Linked DNA regions of Homo sapiens: regions 2, 3, 4, 5, 6 and 7 are each linked to region 1. The links come from fine-mapping of genetic effects on gene expression. A gene starts in region 1. Each other region holds a variant in brackets. All regions are shown on one strand. Distances are between the middles of the regions.

Region 1 (4,670 bases):
TACTTTTGAAAAATGCAAAATCTTGTGCTAAATGTAACTTTCACTTTCTTAAATCACTTTTATGTCAATATTCTTATGAAAATATTTCTTAAAATTAAATGATATTTTATGACCTGATATTCTCTACTTGTCATTTATTTAGATTGCAAGCTAAAAACTAATTAGAAAGACTATACTTTTGCTGTTAACTTTCTCAGAGGTAAAATATCACTTTTCTTTAGTGGTTTGTGATGCTATGAATGAATACTTTCCAGGTTGGGTATTTCCTGGCTGTTAAATATCAGTTAAGTTTTGGCTGACTTCACCTCCATCTATCAACCTCCCTGCCAATCATTTAACAGCTATAGAATAGGTCTCCTCACACAAATCCTTCAGGAAGAATTTCCATTGTGCACATTCTGACCAGAAGAAAAAATGCAGCAAATTTTTGGAAAGTGAATCATTTTTAGAGTTCTGAGCAAATTATGTTAAACTCAGGGTTTCTCACTGTCAGCACCATCACATTTTAGGCAGTATAATTCTTTCTTGTGTGAGGTCGTCCTTTGTCCAATAAGACGCTTAGAAGCATCTCTGTCTCTGCTTATTAAATACCAGTAGCATTCCCTGCTGCCACCAATTATGACAACCAACAATATTTCTAGATATTGGCAAGTATCCCCTAAGTGGCAAAATCTCTTCCAGTTAAGAACCACTGAGTTAAGAACAGTAAGTAATGATCCAGGGAAAATGGATATAAAGATATTAAAAAGCTAGTAAAGCATTTGACATATTAGAAATGCATATAAACAATTCATATTTATAAAATAAAATCTACTGAAGATATAATGAATAAACACTTGTTTTGGTGAGCAAGCTTGGGATTGCAGCTGTGGGCCTGGAAGTGGTAGGAGCTGCAAAGCCTGCCCAGGATTAGCTGTAGCCAGAGCCGGCAGCCAAGACAATAGCAAAGATCAATTTGACCTCAAGATATAATCAAATATGACAGCAGAGTGAATGAAGCTTTTATTTTGCTCCGTTCTTCTCCATAATCCTTCTTATGCCCATAATCATTATAATTACATAAAATATTTAAAAACCTTTAAAAATTATTTCTTGGAAACCATGAATATGGCAGACTAGAGGCATTTTGTACTCACTTTCTCCATTAAAAATAACCAAACGGTGAGTCGATAATCACACTTTGAATATATAATTCAAAGGAAATCACTGGAATCCATTAGAAAAGTGATAGGCAATACTTAAAGCAGAGATGGAGAGGGAATCAAGGCAGCCTGCTCATCCAGGATCAGCTGTGAGCTGAGAGACTCCAAATACAGAGAAAGGATAGGTGAGAGAGCCTCAGTAGTTTACATTCTCACTATAGACTCCTATAATCCCAGCCACAGGAGATCCCTTCAACCATCATGGGCCCCGAAACTAACATAGAAAGCTGCCAGGAGATTGTATGATGGCACTGCTTCAGGGAGAAAGCTCCCGCTGGGTCCCTCACACTTCTTGAGACTTAAGCAGCTACAACAAAGTACCATTTTAGAGCCCTGCCCTCAACAGACTGAGCACTGTCCTGGAGCCCAGTAGCCCAGGGCTGAGGTGCAAGAGAAGCACGAACTGCTGCCCCAGGGACATAGGCATCAGTGACTACAGACTACAGCATCTGGTGCAGAGGTGGGACGAAGGCGTGGGCTGCTGCTTTTAGGACTGAGGCACAAATGAGGCACCACTGCAGAGCCTCACCCCCGATGAACTACATACTGTCCTGGAGCCCAGTGGCATTGAGGCCTAGGTGCAAACTAAATGTCTGATGTTTCCCTGGAGATTCAGACATGAGCGACCACAGGCTACTGCAACCAAGGGAAAGACATGAACATCAAGGCTGGGCAAGATAGCATCTTAGAGCCTCACCCCCAACAGACTGCACACTGTCTTGGAGCCAAGCAACACTGAGGCTGAGATGCAAAAGAAGAGCTGGCTGTTAACCTGGGGCTTAGACATGAGCATTCATGGGCTACCACACCTGGGGCTGAGGTGGGAGCACCACTGGGGATAAGGCATATGTGGCACATGTGTTTTTCACCCACTGGCCTAGACTGCCATCACTGAAGGTGGCATCCAACACCCAGTGGCAGGGCAGCAGCATGGCCACTGCCACCCTGTCTTTACCAAAGAGATAGAGACCATAAAAAAGGAACGAACAGAAATTCTGGAGCCAAAGAATGCAGTGAATAAACTAAAAAATACACATGAAAGCTTCAACAATATACTCAATCATAACTGACTTATGTTAAGATCACATTTTGCTTGAAGACAGTTTTTTTTGAAATAACGCTGTCAGACAAAAATAAAGAAAAAAAGAAAATAATAAAATAAACCTTTGGAATCTATCTAACAACATAAAGTGACCAAATATAAAAATCACTGATAGCCCAGAAGGCAAAGAGAGAAAACATGTTTTCAAAGACCTATTTATTGAAATAATAGATGACACTTCCTAAGTCGAGCAAGACACTTAGACATTGAGATACAGGAGGCCCATCAATTCCTAAACAGATACAATGTGAAAAGGTCTCTTCCATAGCACATTACAGACAAAATATTTAAAGTTTTTTTTTTCTTTTTTTCCAAGATGGCAGATTGGAAGCATTATAAGCATACTTATCCCACTTGGTAAGACAAAATGGCATGTAGAGATTCATGCTGTAAAATTTATTCGAAGAAACAATGTAAGAACTTAACAGAAAAACTGAAAGAAACCACAGACCCTTTGAATGAAGTGGCAGGCAACAGACTACATCATAAAACAGATGGAAAACCATTAGTCCCCAGAGCATGAGAGAGGGATAGATTGCTGTCATGACATATACTCCCACAGGCGAGCCAGGCAATACAAGTCATGAGGGAGGACTTCAAACCTACTCAGCTCTAGAGGTGATTCAGTGAAAAGTAAGGAATATATAAGAAGGAGCAGCATCGGGACATGCTTTGTGTGCAGACCCAGATTCCAGCAAGAATGGAGGGAAGCCATTCCTGATCCCACCTCACGGGACGTTGCAGAAGTCTAACTCAGGCTGCAGTCACAGTTTGAGAGAAGAGCCCAACTGGGATTTGTGATATAATCCTTAGTAAGGACAAAGCTGATTGGCCAGAACCGAGGGGCAAGTGAGAAGTGTGCTACGGCAACAAGGCACATGAGCTGCATGGCCCTGCTTCACAGGTGGACTGGAAAGGATGCAGCCTGAAAGATATGGTTTCTGTGTCCATAGGGAAAGCTTATGGCCTGGGATGGTTTTAAATTCTGAGCACGGGCCACTTGAAACCCAGTTAGCTGCTGCTGCTAGCAGAACACTGTGGGTATGAAAACTGACTTGCCAAGTGTGTGGGAGCTGAGTGGGGCTTATTACAACCTGCTGCCTCCCACTTTTCAGGCAGATTTTTTGTGCAGCAGAGGCAGCTGTGTTCCTGCCTGGAACATTACCCCACCAGCCAGGGAACTGCCCTCGGATCCCCACTGGGGCCACTGCTTGCACCTGCACATGGGGAGCCAGAGTGCAGACTTGCCTGACTCAGTTTAATAACTTCTGAGGCACAATGAAATCATCCCAATGCCTCCATGTTCAATTTCAGGCACTAACAAGTCCCTGAGGTATTAAATGCATTGCTTTTCTGCGGTCTTGCCACCTTCAGGAGCTTACTAAGAAAATGAAGAAGAGCCACGATCACTCCTCTCAATTAGCCTCTTCCCTTGGCTGAGAAATGTGTTTCCGGTCTTGAGAACACAGAAGTTTTGCATTTGCTCATGAGAGATCTGAAACCTTCTGACACTGCCCTGCATCTTTTCCATTCCCTCTAAATAGAGAAGACTCTTCTCCTGTCTCCTACCTTCTGCTCTGACATCCATTCACTAACACCTAGGCACAAAAAGCCTAGTTCACCCAATGGCAGAAACGGCTAAGGTGGGCCTCTTCCAAGCTATGAACAACATTTCAAAGCTTAAGTCCCTACCCTCTTCCAACACAATGTCCTTTTCATTCCTCTAGCTCAGTAGTGCTCAGATTGGGGGTGATTTTGCACCCCATCCCAAGAAGACATTTTGCAGTCTGGAAATATTTTTGGTTGTCACAACTGGGATGGCTCTTGGTGCTATCGGCATCTATTGAATAGAAACTAGGAATGCTGCTAATCATTCTAAATTCAGCAAGATGACACCCCCTCAAAAAAGCCCACAGAACTATCTGTCTCAAAATGTCAATAGTAATAAAGGTGAAAAACCCTGTAGCTCATTCCTTAATAGGCCACCCAAAGAGATTTTGGATGTTTTCATTTATAAAATTATGCATATATTTTGGCAAATCAACAGCTGTTTCTCACCACTGATGGTTAGACAAGGGAAAGAATAAGGAGACTGATATTATAATGAGCTCATTCTATGCCAGGTACAGTGCTCAATACTTCAGATTTATATTATCACATTTAATCTGTTAAAAATGTCCCAACATGTAGTAACAAGAGTTATTTTTATTTTACAAAGTTAAAAGAAAACTGAATTTTGAACAAATTGAAAGATCGATTCAGATTACAGCATCTGTAAATGGCAGAGCAGAAACTTACTATTAATGATCGCATGGCTTCAGAGCTGATGCCAGCCATCTCAATCTCACAAAGATCTCCGCATTCAC
Region 2 (4,670 bases), 370 kb after region 1:
TATCTTTTTTTGCTATGTTGCTTTTCTAGTTGGGAACATCACATTAATCTGTTTTCCCCTCATGATTAAAACTTTTTGGGATAACAGCAATTATTCATTTATGTGCAAATATCTAGAAGATGAGCAATGTGAATCTATAACAGTAAAGGAGGCATTCAGGATGAGGTGGCAGAATTCCTTAAATAGTCATACTTCATTTCAATTGAAAAACTTTGCACAACTGAAAGAATGACAAAAATGCTATTGTTAAAGAAAAAAAAAAACTTTGGAAAGTTATGAATGTCTAAAATTTCCTGCAGTTATTTTTGCAAGGATTGATTCATATTCAGATTAGCTTCCTGCCAGATGGAAGAAACACACAGTAAATCAACTTTTGCAGGAGAGAAATCAAAAAGAAGCATAAGCTGCTATTTAAAGGGGTTTCTTCCTTTTTTGCCATATTAATAGCACATTAACCCTTAGGGAGTGTTATTGCAAGAAGCCAAACCACGGAGGCTACCATTCCATCCTTCAGGAAGAATAAATATTTTTCAGCCCAGTAGGTTGGGGAAAAATAGCTCCTTGGATTGCATACTCAAAAAAGTGTTTCTGTTTAATCATGGTCAAGTTTCATGCACTCCAAAGCAGTAATGAAAGAGTAAATGTATGGAAATAGGGAATGAATTCCTCCTCTTGCACCCAGTGAAACCCCGCTTTAGTTAATTGTTCCTGGGATGCATTAAGGATACAGTAGATGAGATGGATCGATGTCCTTGGGGGTATTCTAAACCAGGTGTGTGTTTTTTTGGGGGGTGGGGAGCGGTGCTGGCGGAGCCCCTCCAGTACCTTTAAGGAGCTCCCTTTATTATTCTGGCCATGTGATCCAAGTGCATCAGAACACAATCATACCACTTGGTTGTACCAGTGCTGGAGACTAGGTTTTCTCTCTGAACCAGCAGTCACTCTTCCTGCTTAGTTCTCTCCTTGTCCTTCCTTCTAATCTTCAACTTGTTCTTGTCCTGATGTCTTTGCCTCACAATTTCAACTTTATGCCCTTTTTGTTTCACATGTGATCTAAGCATTCCTTGTGATAATACCCTGCTCTCCACTGTAGTTGAATAAAGTATCCAGGCTGTGACCCTCCAGACTTGAGCCATCCTCAAGTGCCCTCTTTCCCCTATATACTGACTTCATGGGGATAGCTTTTCACCTGGCCTGTTTCAGCCTTGACACTTTGATGATAATGGTAGCAATGTAGCTATAACATTTGTTTTCTGAGCACCTACTGTGTGTCTATCTTCTCAACAGCCCTGTGAGAGAGGTATTATTATTATTCCAATTTTATAGATGAGGAAATTAGGCACAGATAGTTAAGAAAACTGCTCAAAGATTACAGAGCTTATAATTGACAGAACTTCGCTTCTGATGCAAATGAGTCTGAATTCAAAGCCTGTGCTCTTAACCACTATGCTATATCAGAGTCTTAAACTAAAATGCACCAATTAATCACCTGGGAATCCTGTTAAAATGCAGATTCTGATTCAAATGGTCTGGGATGGGACTTGAGAATTTTCATTTTTTTATTAGCTCCCAGGAGATGCCAATGTTGTTGGTTTAATGTACCAGACTTTGAAGAGCAAGAAACTATATAGGGTGCAGCATTTCAAGAAAACAGATGCTTTGGAAATCTCTTCCGCCCGAATTTCCAGAAGAGATGCTACAAATTCACCATACCACACCTGTGCATTTTTCATGTATTGGAGGGATAAGAATGCTGGCTCTTCCATGCAGTACCAAAAGCTGCCACCATTTAGTAAGCGCTTTCTCACTTCTAGTCACTGTTGTTGTAAGTGCATTTCAGAAACCAACTCACTTAATCCCTACAACAGACTTAGGCAAAAAGTCATACAACTAATAAAAGTGATGGAACTGGATTCATACCTAAAGAGTCTAGCTCTAGAGCCCACATATAACCAATATACGCTTTTTAAGTATAGCAGAGTGGTCTGAGATCAGCTTAGGGCAGTGGTTGACAGTGGGCTCTGACATTAGTTTTGAGTCTGGATTCATTACTTCTTAGGTGTATAACCTTGGATATGTCCTTAACATTATTCTGTTCATTTTAATTTCTACCACTTCTGGTGTCTGGTCCAACATGTAAGGTGCTTGGAAGTTGTTGCTCCTTCCTATCAACATGTGAAGAGCTGAACAAAAGGGAAAATCAACAACTATTCTTAGGCTATAGATTCATCAAAGAAGTGAGGTCACAGAGTAAATTGCTGCCCCCAAAATTGGAGACAGAAACAGGCAGACAAAGGGAATCACAGCTTACTAGAGCAGAAACCCCAAAGCAGAAACCTCCACAAGAACCAATGCCATAGTAAGAAAACGTAAACTGTAATTGGTGAAACGCTGGAGGCTCAGAGTGGACAACTCTGAAAGTTAAAAACTTCTGTTATATGGCTGCACTTACATTTTGTGAGTTTTTACCTTTTGGAGCTCTATTGGGTCTTCATAATGAGCATCAGAAAGTCCCCTCATGCTTTAGAAAAGTAAACATTCTGAAATACACCAAAGCATTTTGTTCTTCTTCAGAAGACATGTCCTTAGGAGAAACTACAGTATTTTACAAGAGTCTAACCTGCTGGGACTATTTCAGAACCTACTTGTGGGAAGGAAAATACCCAATTCCAGCTCCCTGTAGCCTTTCATGTGAGGAAAGGGAGATGCTCAACTCTCACCACTATAAACATTCTGTCCTATCCAAGGGGGAAGAAGCTGAGAAGTATTGGCTAAGTTCACAGTTTAGGGGCACAGGTTCACCAAAAGACAAAGCTAATCACCCGGCGCGGTGGCTCACACCTATAATCCCAGAACTTTGGGAGGCTGAGGCGGGTGGATCACGAGGTCAGGAGATCGAGACCAT[C/T]CTGGCTAACATGGTGAAACCCTGTCTCTACCAAAAATACCAAAAAATTAGCCAGGCATGGTGGCGTGCGCCTGTAGTCCTAGCTACTTGGGAGGCTGAGGCAGGAGAATCGTTTGAACCCAGGAGGTGGAGGTTGCAGTGAGCCGAGATCACCCCATTGCACTCCAGCCTGGTGACAGAGTGAGACTCCTTCTCAAAAAAAAAAAAAAAAAAAAAAGACAAAGCTAATCATAAAGCTATAGAACACTTCACATGCCACCTTCAAACACATACCACTACATCATTCAGGGCCTCTTCATTGCAGTTTCTCTCACCCAATGTACGATGTTCATCCTTCAACAAAATATTACAAGGACATTACTGGCAAAACAAAGTTTGAAGAGATTGAACAAACATCAGAACAAAATTCAAATATATCAGGAATGGTGGCATTATCAGACGAGGAATTTTTTTGAAAATACGTATTATTGTACTAAGAGCTTTAATGGAAAAAGTAGACAACATGCAAGAACAGATAGATAATGTAAGCAAAGAGATGGAAATTCTGAGATAGCATTTAAAAGAAATGCTAGAGATCAAAGACACTGCAACAGAAATGAAGAATGCCTGTGATGGGCATATTAGTAGACTGGATGCAGCTAAGGAAAGAATCTCTGAGCTTGAGGGTATGGAATAGACACTTTCAAAACTAAAAAGAAAAAAGAAAAAAAAATACCGAAAACCCCCAGAACAGAATATCCAGGAACTGTGGGGCAACTCTTAGAGGTATAACATACACATAATGAGGATATCAGAAGGAAAAGAAAGAGAGACAGGGACAGAAGAAATGTGTAACAGAATAATAACTGAGAATTTCCCCAGATTAATATCAGACACCAAACCACATATCCAGTAAGCTTGGAGAACCAAGCAGGATAAAAGCCAAAAAAAAAAAAAAACACAAACATACACATAGGCATACCATTTTTTTTTTTTTTTTTTTTTTTGAAGACAGAGTCTCAGTCTGTCACCCAGGCTGGAGTGCAGTGGCACGATCTCAGCTCACTGCAAACTCTGCCTCCCGGGTTCAAGCGATTCTCCTGCTTCAGCCTCCCGAGTAGCTGGGATTACAGGTGCCCACTCCACGCCCAGCTAATTTTTGCATTTTTACTGGAGATGAGGTTTCACCATGTTGGCCAGGCTGGTCTCAAACTTTTGACCTCAGGTGATCCACCCGCCTTGGCCTCCCAAAGTGCTGGGATTATAGGCGTGAGCCACCACGCCCAGCCAGGCATACCATTTTCAAACTGCAGAAAATCAAAGATAAGAAAAGAGTCTTGAAACAAGCCATCAGAAACAAAAGACACCTATATAGGATCAAAGACAAGAATTACACTTGACTTCTCAGAAACCAGGCAAGCAAGAAAAAGGTGGAGTGAAATATTTAAAGTTTTGGTAGAAAAACAACTTCACCAACCTAGAATTTTGAATCCTATAAAATTATCCTTCACAAGTGAAGGAGAAATAGAGACTTTCTTGAATAAACAAAAATTGAGAGAATTTATTGCCAGAAGACTAGCTTTGAAAGAAATGTTAAAAGTTATTCAGAGAGAAGGAAAATAATATAGATTAGACACTTGGATCTACATAAAGAAATTAGAGAAAGAATAAGTAAACTAAAAGCTTTTATTTTTCTTATTTGTAATTGATGTAACATATAATGGTTTGTTTAAAAAAGAATAGCAACAATGTATTCAATATATATACTTCTGTATTTATATGCTTA
Region 3 (4,670 bases), 610 kb after region 1:
ATAATTATTCTTGCAGCACTGTATGCAAATAAGTAAGCCAAGTATCCTAAAGCAAACCTACCATAATTTGTCTTTTAATAAAAATGGGAAAGTGGAGAGAGGAAATTATGTTTCCAAAACTATGACACCCCTCTTGTTAAATTCTAGAGTTGCCTGATGTTTTTCAGTTATTATTTGCTACTGTTTAATTAAATTCTAATTTTTCTGACTACAAGACTTCAAAATAAGCTGTGCTTTCTTAAAGCCCTATAAACTGGAAACTAGATGTTTCAGCAGGCACTGCCTCTAAGCCCCCTAACCCTCACAGGAGCAAATAAAGAAATAGGAAATCGTAAGCTAAAAATCATAAAAAATAAATAACCGAGAAAGAATTGCTCGTCTTACTCAGTCTCACCCCTACCTCACCAAACACTTTTGTCATTCCTATCTCTCCTTTCAAGCCAAATATTACAACTTTTTAATGGAAATTATTGACTACACCACCCTTGTGGAAACTGCTTTACTCACCCTACTATTTGCAGTAAAACTATATACTGTAGCACCCTCAGGGTAAAATGTCAGACAAAAACAATCTCAATTACTGTAGCATTTTGCTTAATTATTAGCCTCTTAGCAGGAATAACGCTTACTAACAGAAACTAACACATGGGCCTTTCCAAACATGTGCTTCTACCTCTCATTAGGTAAGGAATATTGTTTCTTTATCAACCAATCAGGCCTAGTTAAAAAACGCTGCTAAAACAAACATAAAGAAAAGGCTAAAAAGCTAAGGGAGTACCAAAACAACCAAATAAGTTCTTGGTTTGGGAACACAATCATAGCATGGGTCATCCTATTTCTGGGCCCTCTCCTAACAATATGCCTGGGACTAATTTTCTTACCCTGCCTAATTAACCTTTCTCGGAAAATTTTAACTAACAGGATCACGGCCATTTCACAGACAACTACCCAAAAACATCTACAGACGGCATTGCTCCTACTGTCAACCCAAAAAACTCTCCGTCCCCTCGTCAGCAGGAAGTAATTTTCATTTCAGGGAGATCTTCCAATTTATTGACATACAGTTTCCCACGGTCACCACAAGAGCCCTTTGAATTTTTGCAGCTTTAGCCTGTAATGTCTCCTTTCAATTTTGGAGTTTATTTATCTCGATCTCTCCTTTTTCTTCCTTAGATTGGCTACAGGTTTCTCAATTTTGTATAGCTTTTTAAAAAAAACCCAACTTTTTGTTTCCTTGATAGTGTTTTGACTTTCTTCATTTTACTTTCATTTATTTCTGCTCTGGTCTTTCATTATTTCTTTTCTTCTACTGATTTGGGGTTCACTTTGAGCTTATTTTTCTGTTTTTTTAAGATGCGTCATGAATTATTTGCAGGTGTTCCTCTTTTTCAATGTAGGCACTTATAGCTATAAACTTCCCTCTTAATACTGCTTTTGCTGTATCCCATGGGTTTTGGTATGTTGTGTTTCCATGATCATTTATTTTGAGAAATTTTACAATTTAGTTTTTAATTTCTTCATTGACCTGTGGGTCATTCAGGAGCATTTTTTTTTTTTTAATTCTATGGATTTGTATAATTTTCAAAGTTCCCCTTGTTATTTTCGGGATTTTCTTTTTTTGTTTTTTGGTGGTCAGAGAAGAAGCTTGAAATTATTTCAATTTATTTGAATGTTGATGTTTTAAGACTTGTTTTATGACCTAACATATATTCTAACCTTGAGAATGATCCACGTGCTGGGTAAAAGAAGGTGTATTTTGCAGTCCTTGGAAGAAGTGTTTTGTAAATGTCTGTTACATCCATTTGGTCTGTAATGTACATTAAGTGTGATGTTTCTGTGTTGATTTTATGTCTGGAAGAACTGTCCAATGCTGAAAGTAGGGTGTTGAAGCCCCCAGCCATTATGCTATTGGGACCTATCTCTCCCATTAGTTGTAATAGTGTTTCCTTTATATACCTTGGTGCTACAGGGTTGGGTGCACATATATGTAAAGTTCTTATAGCCTTTTGTTGAACTGATCCCTTCATTATTATATAGTGACTTTTTTTCCTCTTACATTTTGTGTCTTGAAATCTATTTTGTTTGCTAGGAATATAGCTAATCCTGCTTCTTTTTGGTTCCATTCGCATGGAGCATCTCTTTCTATCCCTTTATTTTCAGTCTATGTGTGTCTTCAGAAGTGAAGTGTGTTTCTGGCAGGCAACAGATCAATGTGTCTTGTTTTTTCATACATTCAGCCAGTCTATGTCTTTTCATGGAAGAGTTTAGCCCATTTACATTCAATGTTACTATTGATAAGTAGGAACTTACTCCTGTCATTTTGATTTTTATGTTCAGATGTTTTTGTGATCTTATCTTCCTTCTTTCTTTCCTTTCTGTCTTTTCTTAGGATGATTTTTCTGTGGGTAGATGATTTAGTTCCTTGCCTTCGAATTTTTGTGTATATATTGCATGTTCTTTAGTTTCAGGTTACCTTGAGGCTTGCAAATAATATCTTATAAACCATTATTTTTAATCTGATATTTACTTAAGACGATTTTGACAAACAAACAGCAAACAAAAATAAAACTAATAAAGCTGCATCTTAACTTTGTCCCACTGCTTTCTAATTTTTTGTCATTTCTTTCTGTATCTCATTGTGTTGACTGTGTCTTGAAAAGTTGTGCTTTTCCATTTTGATTGGTTTATCCTTTAGGCTTTCTACTTAGAATAAGAG[C/T]GCTTTACACACTACAGTTACTTTTTTAAAATATTCTGTTTTTCTGTGTACTTACAATGACCACTGAGTTTTGTACCTTCAGTTGATTACTTATTGTTCAGTTGATTACTTATTGTTCAGTACCATCCTTTTCTTTCTGATTGAAATACTCCTTGTAACATTTCTTGTAGGACAGGGCTAGTGATGATGAAATCCCTCAGGTTTTGATTCTCTGGGCCCATTTTTATTTCTCCTTCATGTTTGAAGGATAGTTGTTTCAGATATATCATTCTAAGGTTAAAATTTTTTTCTTTCAGCACTTTAAATATGTCATGCCACTCTCTCCGGGCCTGTAAGGTTTCCACTGAAAAGTCTGCTGCCAGACATATTGGAGCTCCATTGGATGTTATTTGTTTCTCTTCTCTTGCTGCTTTAAGAAAAGTTCTTTATCCTTGATTTTTGGGAGTTTCATTAATGAATAACTTGAAGCACCCTTCTTTCAGTTAAGTCTCCTTGGTGTTCTATAACATACTTGTACTTGGATATGTGTCTCTTTCTCTAGGTTTGGGAAGTTCTCTATTATAATCTCTTTGGAGAAACTTTCTACTCATATGTGTTTCTGTACCTCCTCCTTAAGGCCAATAACTCTTAGATTTGTCCTTTTGAAGCTATCTTCTAGATCCTGTAGACATGCTTCATTGCTTTCTACTCGGTTTTTCTTTTGTCTTTTCTGACAAAAGACCATTTTCAAATAGCCTTTCTTCAAGCTTATTAATACCATCTTCTGTTGATTGATTCTGCTATTAACAGAATTTGAGAGATTCTGCAGCCTATCACTTGCATTTTTCAGCTCTACAATCTCTGCTTGATTCATTTTCATTCTTTGAAACTTACTGTTAATTTTCTGTCTCGTTGATCTGTCTAATGTTGACAGTGGGTTGTTAAAGTCTCCCATTATTATTGTGTGGGAGTCTAGGTCCCTTTGTAGGTCTCTAAGGACTTCCTTTATGAATCTGGGTGCTCCTGTATTGGCTGCGTATATATTTAGGATAGTTAGCTCTTCTTGTTGAATTGATCCCTTTACCATTATGTAATGGCCTTCTTTGTCTCCTTTGATCTTTATTGGTTTAAAGTCTGTTTTATCAGACACTAGGATTGCAACCCCTGCCTTGTCTTGTTTTCCACTGGCTTGGTAGATCTTCCTCCATCCCTTTATTTTGAGCCTATGTGTGTCTCTGCACGTGAGATGGGTTTCCTGAATACAGCACACTGATGGGTTGTGACTCTTTATCCAATTTGCCACTCTGTGTCTTTTAATTGGAGCATTTAGCCCATTTACATTTAAGGTTAATATTGTTATGTGTGAATTTGATCCTGTCATTGTGATGTTAGCTGGTTATTGTGCTCCTTAGTTGATGCAGTTTCTTCCTAGCTTCGATGGTCTTTACAGTTTGGCATGTTTTTGCAGTGGCTGGTACCAGTTGTTCCTTTCCATGTTCAGTGCTTCCTTCAAGAGCTCTTTCAGGGCAGGCCTGGTGGTGACAAAATCTCTCAGCATTTGCTTGTCTATAAAGGATTTTATGTCTCCTTCACTTATGAAGCTTAGTTTGGCTGGATATGAAATTCTGGTGAAAATTCTTTACTTTAAGAATGTTGAATATTGGCCCCCACTCTCTTCTGGCTTGTAGAGTTCCTGCCGAGAGATCAGCTGTTAGTCTGATGGGCTTCCCTTTGTGGGTAACCCGACCTTTCTCTCTGGCTGCCCTTAACATGTTTTCCTTCATTTCAACTTTGGTGAATCTGACAATTATATGTCTTGGAGTTGCTCTTCTCGAGGAGTATCTTTGTGGCGTTCTCCGCATTTCCTGAATTTGAATGTCGGCGTGCCTTGCTAGATTGGGGAAGTTCTCCTGGATAATATCCTGCAGAGTGGTTTCCAGCTTGGTTCCATTCTCCCCATCACTTTCAGGTACAC
Region 4 (4,670 bases), 570 kb after region 1:
TTGTCAATATAAAACAAATCTAATCTTTTTTCTAGCTAACTTACTAAATTTTCTCACCCTGATAGCTAATTTACTGGGTTGCTTTGTGTTTTTCTACGTATAAAATAATAATATTCTCAAATAATATTAATTTTGTCCCACATTCAAAAATGTATACTGCCTGCCTCGGCCTCCCAAAGTGCTGGGATTACAGGAGTTTGAGACCAGCCTGGCCAACATGGTGAAACCCCGTCTCTACTAAAAAAAATACAAAAATTAGCCAGGTGTGGTGGCAGGTGCCTGTAATCCCAGCTACTCCGGAGGCTGAGGCAGGAGAATCGCTTGAACCTGGGAGGTGGAGGTTCCAGTGAGCTGAGATTGTGCCACTGCACTCCAGTCTGGGCAACACAGCGAGACTCCCTTTCAAAAAAAAATAATAATAATGTACACTACATATTTAATTTTCCTATTTCATTGCATTAGCTATTGCAAGTAATAATTACAGAGAGAGAAAAATGTTTCATATACTAATGCTTAACAGTTATACAGAAAACCTGAACACTATGCAGTCATTAACAATGAAATTTTGAAGAATATTTAATGACATGGGAAATGTTCCTCATGTATTAAGTGAAAAAAGAGATTTGTTTTTGGAATATGATATCGATTTTAAAACACACACACACACACACACACACACACACACAGCCATATACATCATTCTCAGTGGAAGAAAAGGCTGGGTGAATACACATCAGTACACAAGCTATTATCACTGGATGATAGAATGTTCCCCTTTTTAATATTTTGAGGTATTTTTCAAATTTCCATGATAAGCACATATAATTCTTATGATCAGAATAAATGCTTTTATTGCAATATATAGAGATTTGTAGGGGAAGTGCTGCCAGACAGTGAGAGGGATCTCCTTAGTTAGTCTATAGTGTCTACCCATTAAGTTCCAAAATATTAACTGCAAAGAGTTTTTTCATATAATGGCAGTTGCTCAACCTCCTGTCCTTATATTTCTATGACTCTAGTTGCTATCTTCACAGATTTGTGGAATGCTGGCACTGCAACTCTCTTTAGTGCAAACTGGCTCTGGTAATGCTGTCTGCAAAATACATTTGCTGGAAAATATATTTGCAATATGGCTACCCTGTTGGATATAAGTAGGAGAAAGGAACAATTTCTGCTGAGTTCTGTCCAAAAGACTCTCCCCTGTTACTTAGAGTCCCTATGCCCCTCACCCCATAGATACTTTTCTGTTTTCCCAACCATCAGTTATCTCCTTAACTGACACAGTTACAGTTAAAACTTGTCCCCTTGCAGGTTTGCTGGTGCTTTACTCTATTTCATACAGGTTATAAAAGTGATTGTTCTGATACCTGAACGCTGAGTGCGAGCCCGCAGAGATGAACCCTTTAAGATGAAGCCGATCAACTAGCTGAATGAGCGAGAGGTCCAGCTTGGGGTGGCCGATAAGATGTCCTGGCCTTCCGAGTACAAGGACAGTGCCTGGATCTTCCTGGGAGGGCTTCCTTATGAACTGACTGAAGGGGACATCATCTGTGTGTTCTCACAATATGGGAGATTGTTAACATCAATCTCATGCGGGACAAGAAGACTGGGAAATCCAAAGGATTCTGTTTCCTCTGCTATGAAGGCCAGAGGAGCACAATTCTGGCCATTGACAATTTTAATGGGATCAAGATCAAAGGAAGAACTATCCGAGTGGATCATGTGTCTAACTATTGGACTCCTAAGGACTCAGAAGAAATGGATAATGTGACCAAAGAGCTCCAGGAGAAGGGCTGTGGGGCTTGTACTCCCTCACCAAGTTTGTCTGAGCTCTGAAAATGAAAAACCAACAAAAAAGCACAAAAATGACAAAAAGAAAAAAAAAAGAAAAAGAGAAAATTGGCTGGGAGGTACAGGCAGAGCAAC[C/A]ATCCTCTTTCATCACCCAGAAGCAAGACAGTGAAAGAAAAGGATGACCCTGGCCCTGAGAAGCACAGCAGCAAGAACTCAGAGAGAGCTCAGAAGTCAGAGCCCAGGGAGGGGATGAAGCTCCCTAAGGCCAGGACTGCCTACTCTGGTGGAGCAGAGGACCTAGAGAGGGACCTGAAGAAAGAGAAACCCAAGCATGAGCACAAGTCCTCAAGCAGGAGGGAGGCAAGAGAAGAAAAGACCAGTAATAGGGACAGAGGGCGGAGCTCAGACACACATTCTAGCCAGTACAATGGGTGTTCTGAAGGGCGTAGTCATAGAAGTAAAAGTAGGAGCCGAATTTCTTTAAGTTCTTTGTAGATTCTGGATATTAGCCTTTTGTCAGATGGATAGACTGCAAAAATTTTCTCCCATTCTGTAGGGTGCCTGTTCACTCTGATGATGGTTTCCTTTGCTGTGCAGAAGCTCTTTAGTTTAATTAGATCCGATCTGTCAATTTTGGCTTTTGTTGCCATTGCTTTTGCTGTTTTAGTCAAGAAGTCTTTGCCCATGCCTATATCCTGAATGGTATTGCCTAGGTTTTCTTCTAGGGTTTTTACAATTTTAGGTCTTATGTTTAAGTCTTTAATCCATCTTGAGTTAATTTTTGTATAAGGTGTAAGGAAGGGATCCAGTTTCAGTTTTCTGCATATGGCTAGCCAGTATTCCCAACACCATTTATTAAATAGGGAATCTTTTCCCCATTGCTCTTTTTTGTCAGGTTTGTCAAAGATCAGATGGTTGTAGGTGTGTGGTGTTATTTCTGAGGCCTCTGTTCTGTTCCATTGGCCTACATATCTGTTTTGGTACCAGTACTGTGCTATTTTGGTTACTGTAGCCTTTTAGTATAGTTTGAAGTCAGGTAGCATGATGCCTCCAGCTTTGTTCTTTCTGCTTAGGATTGTCTTGGCTATACGGGCACTTTTTTGGTTCCATGTGAAATTTAAAGTAGTTTTTCTAATTCTACTTTCTAATTTCTAAGTCAATGTTGGCTTGATGGGGATAGCACTGAATCTATAAATTACTTTGGGCAGTATGGCCATTTTCACGATATTGACTCTTCCTATCCATGAGCATGGAATATTTTTCCATTTGTTTGTACCCTCTCTTATTTCCTTGAGCAGTGGTTTGTAGTTCTCCTTGAAGAGGTCCTTCACATCCCTTGTAATTTGTATTCCTAGGTATTTTATTCTCTTTGTAGCAATTGCTAATGGGAATTCACTCATGATTTGGCTCTCTGTTTGACTATTATTGGTGTATAGGAATGCCTGTGATTTTTGCACATTGATTTTGTATCCTGAGACTTTGCTGAAGTTGCTTATCAGCTTAAGGAGATTTTGGGCTGAGACGATGGGGTTTTCTAAATATACAATCATGTCATCTGCAAACAGAGACACTTTGACTTCCTCTCTTCCTATTTGAATACCTTTATTTCTTTCTCTTGCCTGATTGCCCTGGCCAGAACTTCCAATATAATGTTGAATAGGAGTGGTGAGAGAGGGTATCCTTGTCTTGTGCTGGTTTTCAAAGGGAATGCTTCCAGTTTTTGCCCACTCAGTAAGCAAATTTACAAGAAAAAAACAACCCCATCAAAACGTGGGGGGAAGGATATGAACAGACACTTCTAAAAAGAAGACATTTATGCAGTCAACAAACATATGAAAAAAAGCTCATCATCACTGGTCATTAGACAAATGCAAATCAACACCACAATGAGATATCATCTCATGCCAATTTGAATGGTGATCATTAAAAAGTCAGGAAACAACAGATGCTGGAGAGGATGTGGAGAAATAGGAATGCTTTTACACTGTTGGTGGGAGTGTAAATTAGTTCAACCATTGTGGAAGACAGTGTGGCGATTCCTCAAGGATCTAGAAGCAGAAATACCATTTGACCGAGCAATCCCATTACTGGGTATATACCCAAAGGACTATAAATCATTCTACTATAAAAACACATGGACATGTATGTTTATTGCAGCACTGTTCACAATAGCAAAGATGTGGAACCAACCCAACTGGCCATCAATGATAGACTGGATTAAGAAAATGTGGCACATATACACCATGGAATACTATGCAGTCATAAAAAAGATGAGTTCATGTCCTTTGCATGGACATGGATGAAGCTGGAAACCATCATTCTCAGCAAACTAACACAAGAACAGAAAACCAAACACCACATGTTCTCACTCATAAGTGGGAGTTGAACAATGAGAACACATGCACACAGGGAGGGGAACATCACACACTGGGGCCTGTCGGGGGGTGGGGGGCTAGGGGAGGGATAGCATTAGGAGAAATACCTAATGTAGATGACAGGTTGATGGGTGCAGCAAACCACCATGGCACATGTGTACCTGTGTAACAAACCCGCACGTTCTGCACATGTACCTCAGAACTTAAAGTATAATAATTTTTTTTTTAAAAGACGTAGGAGCCGAGATAAATCCCATAGGCATAAAAGGGCCCGGCGCTCCCGGGAGCGGGAGTCTTCGAATCCCAGTGACAGTAGGCATCACTGAAGACTGTTCAGCTGCTCAGCAGATTTAGAAATAATTATTTTTTTTAATGCAGTCAAATTTAGTTGGGTTGTTACTATTTTTGTATGTAAAACTTCTGGGGCTGTGCTTTTAATCCCTTGAGTATTAGAGTCATTGGGAGGGCTGCAGTTTCAACAGCTAGATATCCTGGATATTTTTC
Region 5 (4,670 bases), 440 kb after region 1:
TTTTTTTAACCATTATCATAAAGGAGTCAAGAATCTCTGCATTAGTCTATAGGCCTGAGACCTATACAAGTCTTGTCGACAAAATAAGAACACTCAGTTGGGGATTCAAAGGTAGCTGCCTGGACACAGCCAAGTGGTACAGCTGCCACTCAGGGACCAGGAAGACTGTCAGGGTTCTTGCGCAGATTCTCCAAGGTCAAAATGAAACAAAACACGTTAAAGGCAGCTAGAGAGAAAGGCCAGGTCACCAGCAAAGGGAAACCCATGAAACTAACAGTGGACCTCGCAGCAGAAAGCCTACAAATCAGAAAAGGTTGGGGCCAATATTCAACATTCTAAAAGAAAAGAAACTCCAATTCAGAATTTTGTATCTGGCCAAACTAGGCATCATAAGCAAAGAAGAAATAAGATCCTTTTTTGGACCAGCAAATGCTGAGTGAATTTGTTCCCACTAGATCTGTCACTAGAGCTCCTGAAGGGAGCACTAAATATGGAAAGGAAGGACCGTTACCAGCCATTCCAAAAACACACTTAAGTACAGAGAGTGATACCATAAAGCAACCACACAAACAAGTCTTCAAAATAATCAGCTAACATCGTGCTGACAGGATCAAATCCACACATATCAATACTAACCTTGAATGTAAACAAGCTAAATGTTCCAAATAAAAGGCACAGAGTGGCAATATAGGTTAAAAAAAATCAAAAAAACAAACAAAAAAAACCAAACCCCATTGGTATGCTGTCTTCAAGAGACCCATCTCACATGCAATGACACCCATATGCTCAAAATAAAGGGATGGACAAAAATATGCCAAGCAAATGGAAAAAAAAAAGCAGAGGTTGGAAACCTAATTTCAGACAAAATAGACATTTAACCATCAAAGATCAAAAAAAGAAAGAAAGGCATTACATAATAACAAAGGCTTCAATTCAACAAGACCTAACTATCCTAAATATATAGGCACCCAAAAGAGGAGCACACAGATTCATAAAACAAGCTCTTAGAGACCTTCAAAGAGACTTAGACTCCCATCCAATAAAACAGTGGAGACTTAAACACTCTACTGACAATATTAGACAGATCATCAAGGCAAAAAATTAACAAAGACATTCAGGACCTGAACTCAACACGGGCTCAAATGGAGTTGACAGACATCTACAGAACTCTCCACCCCAAAACAACAGAATATACATTCTTCTCATCTGCACAGGGCACATACTCTAAAATTGACCACATATTCAGATATAAAACAGTCCTCAGCAAATGCAAAAGAACTGAAAACATAACAACCACTCTCTCAGACCACAGTGCAATCAAATAAGAAATCAATACTAAGAAATTCACTCAAAATTATACAATTCCCGGGAAATTGAATAACCTGCTCCTGAATGACTTCTGGGTAAGTAATGAAATTAAGGGAGAAATCAAAAAGTTCTTTGAAACTAAAGAGGACAAAGATACAATATTTCAGAATCCCTAGGACACAGCTAATACAGTGTTAAGAGGAAAAATTATAGCACTATTTGCCAAAATCAAAAAGTTAGAAATACCTCAAATTAAAAACCTAACATCACAACTAGAGGGAAAAGAGAAGCAATAGAAAACCAACCCCAAACCTAGCAGAAGACGACAAGAAATAAGCAAAATCAGAGCTGAACTGAAGGAGATTGAGACATGAAGAAAAATTCAAAAGATCAACAAATTTAGCAGTTGGTTTTTTGAAAAAATTAATAAAATGGACTGCTAGCTAGAATAATAAAGAAGAAAACAAAGAAGATCCAAATAAATAAAATTACAAATAACAAAGGGAATACTAACACTGACCCCATAAAAATACAAATAACCACTATAGAATATTATGAAAACCTCCATGCACAGAAACTAAAAAATCTAAAAGAACTAGATAAATTCCTGGACAAATACACCCTCCAAAGACTGAGTCAGGAAGAAATTGAATCCCTGAACTGACCAAAAACAAGCTTGAAAATTGAGTCAGTAATAAATAGCCTACCAAGTGAAAAAAAGCCCAGGACAAGAGAGATACACAG[C/T]CAGATTCTACTAGATATACAAAGAAGACCTGATGTCATTTCTACTGAAACTATTCCAACAAAAATGGAGGAGAGACTCCTCCCTAACTCATTCTGTGAGGTCAGCATCATTCTGATACGAAAACCTGGCAGAGACACAATAAAAAAACTAAAATTCAGGCCATATCCTTGATGGATATAAATGCACAAATCCTCAGCAAAACACTGGCAAACCATATCCAGCAGCACATCAAAAAGCTAACCCATCACAATCAAACCAGCTTTATATCTAGGATGCAAGGTTAGTTCAACATATGCAAATCAATAGATGTGATTCATCACATAAACAGAACTAAAAGCAAAAACCAAATAATCATCTCAATAGATGCAGAAAAGGCTTTTGATAAAATTCAACATCTCTTCATGTTAAAAACTCTCAATAAAGGAAATGTTGAAGGAACATACCCAAAAGTAGTAAGAGCCATCTATGGCAAATCCACAGCCAACATCATACTGAATGGCAAAAGCTGGAAGCGTTCCCCTTGAGAACCGGAACAAGACAAACAAGGATGCCCTCTCTTACCACTCCTATTCAATGTAATATTGGAAGTCCTCGCCAGAACAATCAGTCAAGAAAAAGAAATAAAGGGCATCCAAATAGGAAGAGAGGAATTGAAACTATCTGTTCGCAGAAGACATGATTTTGTGTCTAGTAAACCCCATGGTCTTGGCCCAAAAGCTCCTTGATCTAATAAACAACTTCAGTGATGCCTTAGAATACAAAATCAATGTACAAAAGTCACTAGCATTCCTATAAACAAACAACCGTTAAGCTGAGATTTTAAACTTCCTCTATAAAACTAAATCTCCTTGGATGCATATAATGACTTAGCATCAATTCTAGACTATCGTGGGAATTAAAAACAAAAGCCAGAGTTGATTCCAGACTCTGGAATCCTATGTAATTAGCATTGGTTAAACAGTTCCACATAGAACCACATCTCAAAGGAACTATATTATTTCTTCCAACGATGATCATAGAATAATATTTCAGTTCAAATTTAGAATGGACCAAGAACTCACACCTCTCAGTCTTAAAGCATCTTTACAGTTTTATTTATATTATTGATGTCTATAGTTGATGTAACCTGAATCAAATCCAGGACATTTTGTCTCCAGTCCATGCTGTTGATTACAGTCATATATTTCCTGTTCTGTGTCATTCAAAAGTGTAAATTTTGTCTATAGAATTTATGAAAACGTATAATCAGGATAGCCAGGGTTAGACTATTATTTTGATTAAGCCCTATAAACTAGCTGTAGCTGTCATTACTTAATACTCTCAAATAGGACTTCTACAATGTTTGAAAAATTCAAATTTATCACTGAAAATGTGCCATTTTGAACAACCATTTTTTATGAAATAGTTCATACATGCACAAAAGTATATGTAACATATAAAGAATAAAAGGTAGTAAATCCCTAGGTACTCACCATCCATGTTAAACGGAGCCATTATCCTAAATTATATTTTCAAACGTTTTACCCTATGTATATGACTTGTGCACCTTATTATACCATCAAATTTTGCATTATCTTGAAATCTGGTATATGCTTGCTTACCTTTTTTTCAGTATCATATTTAGCAGCAGACATTCCATGAATGAGATATGAACCTTTGCTTTATTAAGCCACTGAGATTTTAAGATTGTCTATTCCTACAGCATAACCTAGCATATCCTGAGTGATAAATATAGCCACTTTCGTTTTCTTAAAAGATGATGTTAAGAGCATATAAGAAAAAGAGCATAGGTAATAGGCCAAGGTAAATGAATTTAAGGCTGCAATTGCCTGAATCTTTATACTTGATAATTATAGTGACGTAATTCAACCAAGTTTAGCATTCAATCTCATATAAATACATGGTGTCAGATTTACAAATGAAACTTTTTTGACTAATGGAAGGGTATACCTGTAGCAACTCAGGAAAAAGAGATTCTAAAATTGAACTCAGACTGAATCAAACCACTGAAGAAAAATAGCTTTTAACACCATCAGCTTGCATCCCTTTGAGGCATTTGGGTGGGATGGCTACCTTGTTGTGCAGGCACCATCTAATGTTCTTTTTTGTTTTTGTTGGGTATGCTGAACTTCAGATCTAAACCATTTTGGAGGGCTTATCATAATACTGAGTCTCCTGGCTTCACAAGTCATTTCCTTTATAATATGAGGACTCCAGGGAAATCTGGCAGCCATTTCACTTTGTTTCTAACACCGAAGTAGAACACATTGAAGCCATATGGTGGCATCTGGTTTGTGAAAAACAACAAAAAATCAAAACAAAAAAACCCTAAGTTCATAAACATATTTTAAAATAAATTTGGATGGGGGCTTCAGAAACTTTTGCCACAATAGTAATATTGAAAGGGGAACTCTCTTGCTCCAGATTTCTTGGAAATAATTTTAATTCAAAAATTTTTTTGTTTGCTTTTTTGTTTTTAATACTAGGACGTGCCACTAGAGAAAGAAAATATGGAATATTCAACAGCTTAACAAGTTACTGTTTGCCAAGGCTTAAGGAGGGATGGGGCAGGACAAAAATGGGTGTGGCTATAAAAGGACTATATGAAGGATTTTTG
Region 6 (4,670 bases), 41 kb before region 1:
CCCTGGGCTCCCGATAGACGAAATGCTCCCTCTGAGCACACACCCCTATTGCATTCAGCACTTCCCAGATGACCTCCTCAGATGCACAGTTGCCCTTTATGAAGATCACACTCAGAATAAGAATCAGGAGGCGGTTCTGGGGCATGCCCTGCTCATCACTCAGACTCCCCTCACAGGTGAGGTCTAATGTGTTTACAAAGACATAGAAATGGTCGGGGTCCACTTCTGTCAGGGAAATGCCAAAAAGAATCTCTATGAACTCACGGGCTTTCCTGAAGATCATAGGAAAGTAGCCCGTGTATGTGTTGATGACATTCATCTGCATCTCTGCTCTTGTGAGAGGCTCTTTTGCTTGATATTTGAGGAGAAGAAACTGCACCAACTTGTCCACCTTTTCATCCAGTGTATAAGTGAACAAGGGCTCGCTCTCTGGCAAGCTGTGCCAGGTACTTGTATCTTCATCTTATTGGCTGCTAGGCTCTTCATTGAATGGGCTTCATAAAGTGGAGGAGGAGCAGGACAGGGAACCCTGGAGAGGACCCTGGGGAGGACTCTCAGGAGGATTCTGGGGAAGAGGCAGCATCCCAGCAGACAGCTACTCCTCCTCCTCCTCATGAGCACCAAGAATCAGAGTAGAGGATGAGGAGGAGGAGGAGGAGGAAGAGGAGAAAGAGGAGGAGAAGGAGGAAGAAGAGAAGGAAGAGGAGGGGAATAATAAGTAGAAAGAGGAAGAGGAAATGGAGGAGGTTTTCTCCTCTTCCTCCTCTGTGGAATCCTGTGCATCTGCCAAGTTCTCTATCACAGTTTGGTTCTGGAAGTCTTTCTCAAAGTTGCCGCTAGGAACATTTCAAAACACAGGCATAACGTCTTCCTTAGGAGCAGGAGGTAAATGTGTGAGCAGGGATGTGGATGATGGCATCCAACAGGCCTGAGGGAGAGAGGGACACTGCAAGTGGCCTCAGCTGAGAAACTCACCCATGGTGGTTCTGACAAAGGCCGGCTTACAGCTCTTCTTCTCTTAAGGTGGTGCTCTAGGGCCTCACGGGTCACCTGCCATCCTAGGGGGTTTGTCCCCTGGGAACCTGTAGGAGGATGTGAGAAAGCACCTCGGGGCACAGCTGGCAGGCAGAGCCTGAGGCACCAGGAATGGCAGTAGGTGGCTATGGCCAGGTGCTGCCAGGTCTGCTCTGTTTGTGGGGGTAGGGCCCTTGGTACACAGTCAGGGCGTGCACTCACCTTGACTCCTGATATTGCCTGGGCCTCCTCTGCTGTGCTGACTTTAGGAAGTGTGCCTCAGACCCAGGTCTTCAACTCCTGGTTCCTGGAGCACCTGCAAGAGGAAGTGAGGGAGCCCCTCAGGCTAAAGACTGCAAGCAGAGTCTTGGGCCTCCCAAGGCTGACAGCTGGGGCTGACCAGACTCCCAGAGCCCCACAGTTCTGGACTGCATGGTCCCATCAGAATTTAATTAGCATCCTCACCTTTTCTCAGACAGGGCCATGTCCCTACCACTCTTCTAGCCAAAACTCAGGGCAAACTCCACATCCCTGAGAGCAGTGGGAGGTAGTGAGGTGGCAGCCACCTCCCAGCACTCTACCACGGGGGCAGTTGGGCTGGCCTCACATCTGTTCTGATGCACATGTGACTCCTCAGTCCTCACTCTTATCCCCAGCAGGGCCTGGGAATCTTCCCTCTGCCAACTGGAGGCAGCTCCCTGTGCTGATTTGCCACGGGACCCTCAGACCAAGGCCTTCCCTTTCCCTGCACCTCTCACCCAGCAATGAGAGGGCTGCCGCTCAGCCTGAGCTGACTGGGGAGCTCTACGAGGGCTGATATGGAGGAGCATGCTGGGAATCTCTGGGAGTCTGTCCTCTGAGGTGGCGTTTCCCCTTGTCCTTCTCAAAGTCTTCCTATTTATTCCCTAGAGAGCTGGCACCTCCTCCCTTCTTCTGTCATGAAGACGTGTCCCTCAGCCCTCGGTTACCCTCTTCCTGTCTGCGACCTACAATCTCACAGCAGGTAGAGGGCAGGCAAGAGCTTCTTCTTTCTGTGGTGGGAGGTCCCTCAGTTCTCCCTTAGGGCCCTTACCTTGAGGATCGGCCAGTTCTAAGAGTCTTCTGTCTGCTGATCTCAATTAAGCCTTCTCACAAAATGCCTCAAATACTTCAGACTCCCAGTGGGGCTAGGTCTCCTCTCTATGGAGGAACCACCCCTCACCTCTCTACCTCTTTCCCACACTTTCCTGACCACCTCCCGGCCCTTCTCCACCCCTTCCTGCCCATCTCCTGGGCCCCCTCCACCCCTTCCTGCCTACCTCCCCGACCCTTTCCACCCCTTCCTGCCCACCTCTCGGTATCCCTCCACCTTTTCCTCCTCACTTCAAAGCCCTCGTCCATATTTCCCTGCCCACCTCCCCGCTTTCTCCCCCCACAACCTTTTTCCAGGGCTGACGGCAGGAAGGGAAAGGGTGTAGCCTGTGCCTCTCCTCCATGTTGGAAGGTCACTG[T/A]CCTTCCACAGAGTTCTCTTCTCGTTGAGTGGCCAGTCCTGGGGTTCCTCCCTCTGCTTAACTGAAACTGCCCTCCTCAGAGAAAACTTCCCCTCCGGCTGACTCCCAAAATGCAAGTCAGAAAGTTGTAAACCTGGGGACCCTGATAGGGTCCTCCAGAGCTGGCAGCAGGCACAGGGACAGGGGAGGGGCACTACCAGTCATGGGTGTTCCCTTCCTGCCTTCCCGAGAGGCTGTGCCTGGACTCCTGGAAACCGCCTGGCCTTCCTGCCTCTGTGCAACTGAGTCTTTCACCTCCGAATAAGCCCCTCCCATCCCTGAGACCTGCAAGGTGCAAGAGAGGGAGAATCACATCCACCCACAGTGGGGTGGGGCCTCCCAGGCCCAAGGCAGGACTCTGGTGTCCTTTTTCTAAAATGGGGTGGGCAGGACTCTCTGTTTTCCTGCAGTTATTATTCCTGACATGGCCTGGGAGCCCTTCCCCTGCTGTCCAGAGACTATGTTCTTCAGATCAAGGTCCCCATTTCCATGAGACGCCCCCCAAGACGAAGTGAAAAGCGCTAGCATCTCTGACTGAGGGCCCTGCCCAAGGCCTCCCAGGGGTGAAAACAGGGCCTGGATTTGTGTGTCCTTCTGTTTCTTGGGAGGGGTGTCTCACCAGTCCTTCCTCTGTGTCATCCTGGGGATGCCTGGAAGGGCCTGAGTCCCTTCACCTCTCATGATCTGAAGTGAGACTCACCTAGGCAGAGCCTTCTCCTCTTTCTACCCTCTAAAATGTCAGGGGGACACCACAGTGGGCCACCATGCCCCAGGGCCTCCCAGGGCTGACAGCAGCAGTGGAGCTGGATTCTGTGGATCCTTCTCTTTGTGGGCAGGGAGTCTTGCAGTTATCTCTCAGAGGCTTCATGTGACTACTGGCTGGTCCTGGGTCTCCCTGTTCTTCTCATGATGACAGTATAACATACGGCAAAAAATAATGTAATTTTACCCTGAATAAAGCTAAAAAGCACGATGATGCCATGGTAATCAAGTTAACATCATCAGTGACAAATTTTGTTGGTACTATGTGCTGTCGGTATGATAAGAACGGCACTTCACCTCTCTGTTCATCCTTCCAGGAAACATTACCTACATCAAATCATGACAGAAAAAAATCACATAAATCCCAGTCAAAGTCAATTTTACAAAATACCTAACCATACGAAACTGTCAAAACTGTCAATGTTTTCAAAATCGAGAAATGTCTCAATCAACCGGTACAGCCAAAGGGCATCGAAGGAACATGATAACTAAATGTAATGGAGTATCCTTAGGGGATCCTGGCATAGAAAATAGAATTTCGTGAAAAGTAAGAAAATGTGACTGAAGTATGTTCAATAATAAATAAAGAATGTTTGTTAAAAACAATGTACAAATACTGGCTCATTAGTTTTAGGAAACCTTACCAAGGTAAGGTGTTAATAACAGGAGGCATTGAGTGTGGAACATATGAGAACTTTCTTACTATTGTTATAATTTTCTTGTAAATCTAAAATTATTTAAACATAAAGTTTATCAAATATGAAAAATGTTACCAAACTAGATAAAAGGATATGCATGAAAAACCTACAACAGATACATCTTTTAAGGAAATGTTGGAAGCCTCTAGTTTGAACTTGAGACCTAACCTAGAGTTTCTGCTACAAGTACTTCTATTACTTTTTATACTAGAGGTAGTAGCCAGTGTAGTAATCCAAAGAGCAGTAAATGAAGGAATGAGGATTGGCCAGTTGGAAACAAAGCGTTTGTGATTCATGCATGATTAGACTGTGCATGAAAAGAATCCAAAACAACTAAAGATAATTTATTCAATATATAATAGTATATCAGTTTGCTAGTATAAGGTCAATATTCAAAAGAATATCAACTTCGTTTTTTGTCAGGGAAAGAGTATGAAAATGAAAGTAAAGACTATATAATTTTAACCTATAGTACCAAAATATCAAGTATCTTAGGAAAATAATTTAACCAAAAACATTTTAACCAAATAAGACTGGGAGGCAGCTGATGGCTGGTTAAAATATTTTTTGGTTAAAAAAGCTTAACCAAAAAATTTTTACAGACAAAAATATTAAAATGCTGTTGAGGCATATTAACAAAGACCTACCTGAACATAAAATAAAATAA
Region 7 (4,670 bases), 590 kb after region 1:
CAAGGAGAACTACAAACCACTGCTCAAGGAAATAACGAGGACATAAACAAATGGAAAAACATTCCATGCTTATGGATAGGAAGAATCAATATTGAGAAAATGGCCATACTGCCCAAAGTAATTTATAGATGCAATGCTATCCCCATCAAGCTACCACTGACTTTCTTCACAGAATTAGAAAAAACTACTTTAAATTTCATATGGAACCAAAAAAGAGCCCGTATAGCCAAGACAATCCAAAGCAAAAAGAACAAATCTGGAGGCATCATGCTACCTGACTGCGAACTATATATACTACAAGGCTACAGTAACTAAAATAGCATGGTACTGGTACCAAAACAGATATGTAGACCAATGGAACAGAACAGAGCCCTCAGAAATAACGCCACACATCTACAACCATCTGATCTTTGACAAACCTGACAAAAACAAGCAATGAGGAAAGGATTCCCTATTTAATAAATGGTGATGGGAAAACTGGCTAGCTATATGCAGAAAGCTGAAACTGGATCCCTTCCTTACTTACACCTTATACAAAAATTAACTCAAGATGGATTAAAGACTTAAATGTAAGACCTGAAATCATAAAAACCCTAGAAGAAAACCTAGGCAATACCATTCAGGATATAGGCATGGGCAAAGACTTCATGACTAAAACACCAAAAGCAATGGCAACAAAAGCCAAAATTGACAAATGGGATCTAATTAAACTAAGGAGCTTCTGCATAGCAAAATAAACTATCATCAGTGAATAGGCAACCTACAAAATGGATGAAAATTTTTGCAATCTATCCATCTGACAAAGGGCTAATATCCAGAATCTACAAGGAACTTAAACAAATTCACAAGAAAAAAAACAAACAACCCCATCAAAAAGTGTGCGACAGGCGTGTGGCTCCTCTGGCTGCCATGCATGTTCAAACCCCTCATGGGAAAGGGAACACACAGACAGGCAGGTGCAGAAGCTGGGGCAAGCACTCCTGGGCTCTAGACCCATGGCAGCATCCAGGGGTGGGTGCCTGTGAAGCCCAAAGCCCAAGTGGGTGTATATTACAGTGTGCTCTTTTAGCTTTGCCATCCACGGATGGCTTAAGTGTTAAACAGCTTAATGGACCCTCTGCCTTTTCACAAGGGCAGAAAGCCAGTGTGACAGCTTTCTGTATCCCAAACTCTTGTCCAGCATCCAGGAAAAATCAGGTCTCACATGGATTTGAAGGATGGTGAATGTGGAGGTTTTATTGAGTGGTCAGGGTGGCTCTCAGTGGGACGGATGGGGAGCTGAAAGGGAGACAGAGTCAGAAGATGATCTTTCCCTGGAGATTTGCTGTCCCCAGCTGAACTCCTCTCAATGTTCAGATGCTCCTTCTCTTCTCTCCTTCTCTGCCATTCTTCTGCTCTTCTGTTCCTCTGCTCGTCTGCTCATGGAGCCTAGGCTTTGGGGTTTATATAGGTACAGGATAGGGGGATGTGGTGGGTCCAAAGGCAACTTTTAGTCATGAAAACAGGAATGCCTGTTCCCATTTAGAGCCATGGGTTTCCAGGCTTGAGGGTAGCACTTTTGCTGGGGAACCACCCTCTCCTACCCAGTATTTCCTTGTCTCCTGTCTGTATCATCAGGACTTCCTGAGGCTGCGTCATGGGTGCATCCTTAACCTTGGCAAAATTAATTTTCAAAATTGACTGAGACCTGTCTCAGATATTTGGGGTTCACATTTGGGTAACCACAGAGGGATTCTGAGTGTAGGTGCCCCTGACCTTTCACAAATCTTCTACTGGTACTTGGTACCAGCTTGAGCTATCTTCATGGTTAAAACCAATAGGACAATTTGCTGAGGCCTGAAAGCCACCCCTCCAAAGAATCCCTGATCTCCAAAAATTTGGTTGCAATCTAAACTTTATTTTGCTGCACAACTCCTTTTCTGAAAATTTACCTGCTTTCAACAAGGAAGGCAAGTTTTCCTGCTTCCATGTCAATGGAAGGCAGGTAATTCCTTTATGGAGTTTGACCTTGCTCCCAGCACGGAAGATGAATCTGAGTTTTTTCCTGCTTCTAGGGTAA[C/T]AGACAGCAGTCTTCAGCCTGAGACCCATCACTAGGTAAGTAGCTCAATAGGGGTTTTGTCTTGTCTAAAGTTAAGATTAACAACAAGCTGGTCTTAATTTCTCCTTACCATTAGAGTGCTCAGTAATCATATAAATTTTGAGATACTTTGTGTTTTTGCTTAACTTTTTTTTTTTTTGCCGTTGTTTGTTTCTGTTTTTGTTGTTTTGGTCTTTCTTTCTTCATTGGGAAACTATCCAACTTGATCAAATCTAAAGGAAAGTTCCAAATTATGAGGAACAAGGCCTCTGAAGTGGCTAAATTTCCACAAAAGGTGGGGAGGGCTTGGGAGGAAAAATGCTCAGCAAAAGAAAAAACAATAAAGATTTTTGATTTTGAGTACTTAAGGGGCTTTATGTACATAGCAAGGCCACTTTTTTGCTATCCAGGCCAAATTGAAAGAGCAACGCTGTTGCCCCATGCTGCAGTTTCATAGCTAAGGTTCTGCCTTCTTTTTTTTCCACAACAGCCTGGGTTTGCTTCCTAAATCAAGCCCTTTCTGGTTTGATACTTGCTTCTTTTGAAACATCAGCAATTTTTCCTAGCTAAAAAATGGTAATGAGATTCAGAAAGATTTTTTTAAAGGAGCTCAAGGGTTAAAAGTCAGCTTAATTAAAAGCTAACATCTGAGATGTGTGTGTGTGTGCATGTGTGCATTTGTATTAAAAGGCCTTTATTTTTTCCTCTGTTAGAAACAGATAATCGGTGCCATGAAGAAAAGACAAAGGATCTCTCAGCAAGGCAATCTTTACTTTCTGCAGAAAGGGTGCCCCTCGCAGATCGAACAATCGTGACAGCACACTTGAACAAAGGAAAAGCAGACATATTTATTATTTACGTATTTGGGTCAGCCTTACGGCTCTGTCCTGCATCCATTGGCTGGAGCTGGACCTCACAGTCTTCAACTGATACCAAATCTGCTAATAACCTAAAACTTTCCTAAACAGGTAAGTGCAAGGGAGAACAAAGAAGAAAAAGAAGTTGCTTACTAAAGGTTTAAGGAAGCAATTAACATTTCAAAAAAGGAAGGGGCATAAGCTATGAGCTAAGACTTGCCTGGGCCTGTCCAGACATGCCTGAGTAAGCCAAAGCAACTAACTGGGCTCAAGTGTAAGAACTAGTAGTTGAGAGGAGGCTTTAGAGTAAGGAGCTATTACTTATAGTGTCTATTATTTTATTTTTAAACCAAGATGAGTTTTGAAGAGAAACATTACTACTTTCTACATCTTCTCTCCTAGGACCTTGTCTTTTTTGAGCAAAAGTTTTTTTTTTTTTCTTCTCAGACGATGACATTCTGTTTTCTTCATTTACTTCTGCTGTCTCTCCTTTATTTTGCTACCCACTGTTGCATGAGGGACGTAAAATAGTTTATAATTGCCTGCATTCCTTAAAGAAAATGGAGAAGATGCCACACTCCCTTTTGGGGAGAAACCTCTATTTTTCCCAAGAGTGTAAACAGACAAGTTCATCTCAGATCTTAAGCTGCCTGCTTTTGTATTGTGTTACTTGATTTTTTAACTAAAACTGTTATTAGTTTATTCTTGGATTTTTAAGGAAGAAAGTAGCTTGAACACTTAGAAATGTCTTTGTTAAAAAAAAAAAAAGGACACTGTAAAACCGTCACTTGGTGTAGCCTCATAGTAATTCTCCCTTTTTGGAGACCTAGGATTCAGTGTGGGCTCTGCCCAGAGCTCAGAGATCCAGTTAAAAGACAGGTAGTCCCTATCTAAATACAACTGGTCTCCTTATACAATCCTATAATATATTTCTACAATTTTGTGTTTGATTTGGCATCCATGTTTAATCTCCCTCTAACATCGCCCGACTCTTTCTCTCTGTGCTTTGACATGTAAATTTCACTATCTGATTTTTTTTACCTAAGAGTTCCTTTAATATGCACATTTAGGGCTATCTAGATGACAACTGCCTAGGGCAATAAAATAGGTTATGAAGAAATTGTAAATCTAAAATACGAGGAAAAAATAAAGGCCTTAGGAATTTATAAGATCTACTTCTATCTACATATCTAATACATCTATGTATTTATGTGTCATGGATATGACATTTCACTACTAAAAATGTAGAAAAGAGCTCTAATTAATTGGCTTAACAAAGGCACTTAAATCTAATGCTTTTCAGAAAAATAGACTTTAAGCCAAATGCTTTTTCAAGTTCATGTGACTTAAGCAAATCTTCAATAAACAAGCTGGTTTTAAAAATTTTAGTGAAATTGAATTAGAAATGGCTTTGGAATTCTCAACATATTTATCTCTGCTAGATGTCAACATTTGGCATGAGGGTTCTAAAGCTATGAATGCAGCTCAAATGAGAATTATCTTTGTTTATGTAAAATTTAGTAAGTAAGGAATTTAATATTGTTTGGTTAATGAAAATAGCTAAATCCTGAGTTATTGACAAAAAAACAAAAACAAACAAACAAACAAAAAAACGACCCTTTATCTAACCTTAATGTTCTTACTCAGGACAACCTGAAATTCACAGGTTATAAAAATGGTTAACAAGGACATAACTTTAAATGGTAACTATCACAGTTTTCATAAGTAACCTGAGT

What was found.
Region 2: its variant is fine-mapped to the expression of MAGEC3 in coronary artery (GTEx, PIP above 0.99).
Region 3: its variant is fine-mapped to the expression of MAGEC3 in pituitary (GTEx, PIP above 0.99).
Region 4: its variant is fine-mapped to the expression of MAGEC3 in pituitary (GTEx, PIP above 0.99). The same link has a PIP of 0.9 or more in cerebellar hemisphere.
Region 5: its variant is fine-mapped to the expression of MAGEC3 in coronary artery (GTEx, PIP above 0.99). The same link has a PIP of 0.9 or more in cerebral cortex.
Region 6: its variant is fine-mapped to the expression of MAGEC3 in thyroid (GTEx, PIP above 0.99). The same link has a PIP of 0.9 or more in skeletal muscle.
Region 7: its variant is fine-mapped to the expression of MAGEC3 in nucleus accumbens (GTEx, PIP above 0.99). The same link has a PIP of 0.9 or more in caudate, cerebral cortex and hypothalamus.

What each region holds. Positions count from the first base shown.
Region 1 is chrX:141,835,780-141,840,449 of GRCh38, reverse strand. MAGEC3 (MAGE family member C3) reads right to left here and starts at 2,134. Exons shown (of 8, transcript NM_138702.1): 1 at 2,012-2,134. The coding sequence starts at 2,134.
Region 2 is chrX:141,464,761-141,469,430 of GRCh38, reverse strand. No RefSeq gene overlaps it. Among named protein-coding and RNA genes, the nearest start is that of SPANXA2-OT1, 36 kb to the left of the region's middle. The variant C/T (reference allele first, on the strand shown) is at 2,906.
Region 3 is chrX:141,227,735-141,232,404 of GRCh38, reverse strand. No RefSeq gene overlaps it. Among named protein-coding and RNA genes, the nearest start is that of SPANXC, 12 kb to the left of the region's middle. The variant C/T (reference allele first, on the strand shown) is at 2,717.
Region 4 is chrX:141,260,938-141,265,607 of GRCh38, reverse strand. It overlaps the pseudogene RBMX2P2. Among named protein-coding and RNA genes, the nearest start is that of SPANXC, 21 kb to the right of the region's middle. The variant C/A (reference allele first, on the strand shown) is at 1,927.
Region 5 is chrX:141,396,360-141,401,029 of GRCh38, reverse strand. No RefSeq gene overlaps it. Among named protein-coding and RNA genes, the nearest start is that of SPANXA2-OT1, 100 kb to the left of the region's middle. The variant C/T (reference allele first, on the strand shown) is at 2,053.
Region 6 is chrX:141,877,170-141,881,839 of GRCh38, reverse strand. It overlaps MAGEC3 (MAGE family member C3), which reads right to left. Exons shown (of 8, transcript NM_138702.1): 3 at 2,409-2,665; 4 at 44-437. Among named protein-coding and RNA genes, the nearest start is that of MAGEC1, 24 kb to the left of the region's middle. The variant T/A (reference allele first, on the strand shown) is at 2,505.
Region 7 is chrX:141,245,863-141,250,532 of GRCh38, reverse strand. No RefSeq gene overlaps it. Among named protein-coding and RNA genes, the nearest start is that of SPANXC, 5.7 kb to the right of the region's middle. The variant C/T (reference allele first, on the strand shown) is at 2,060.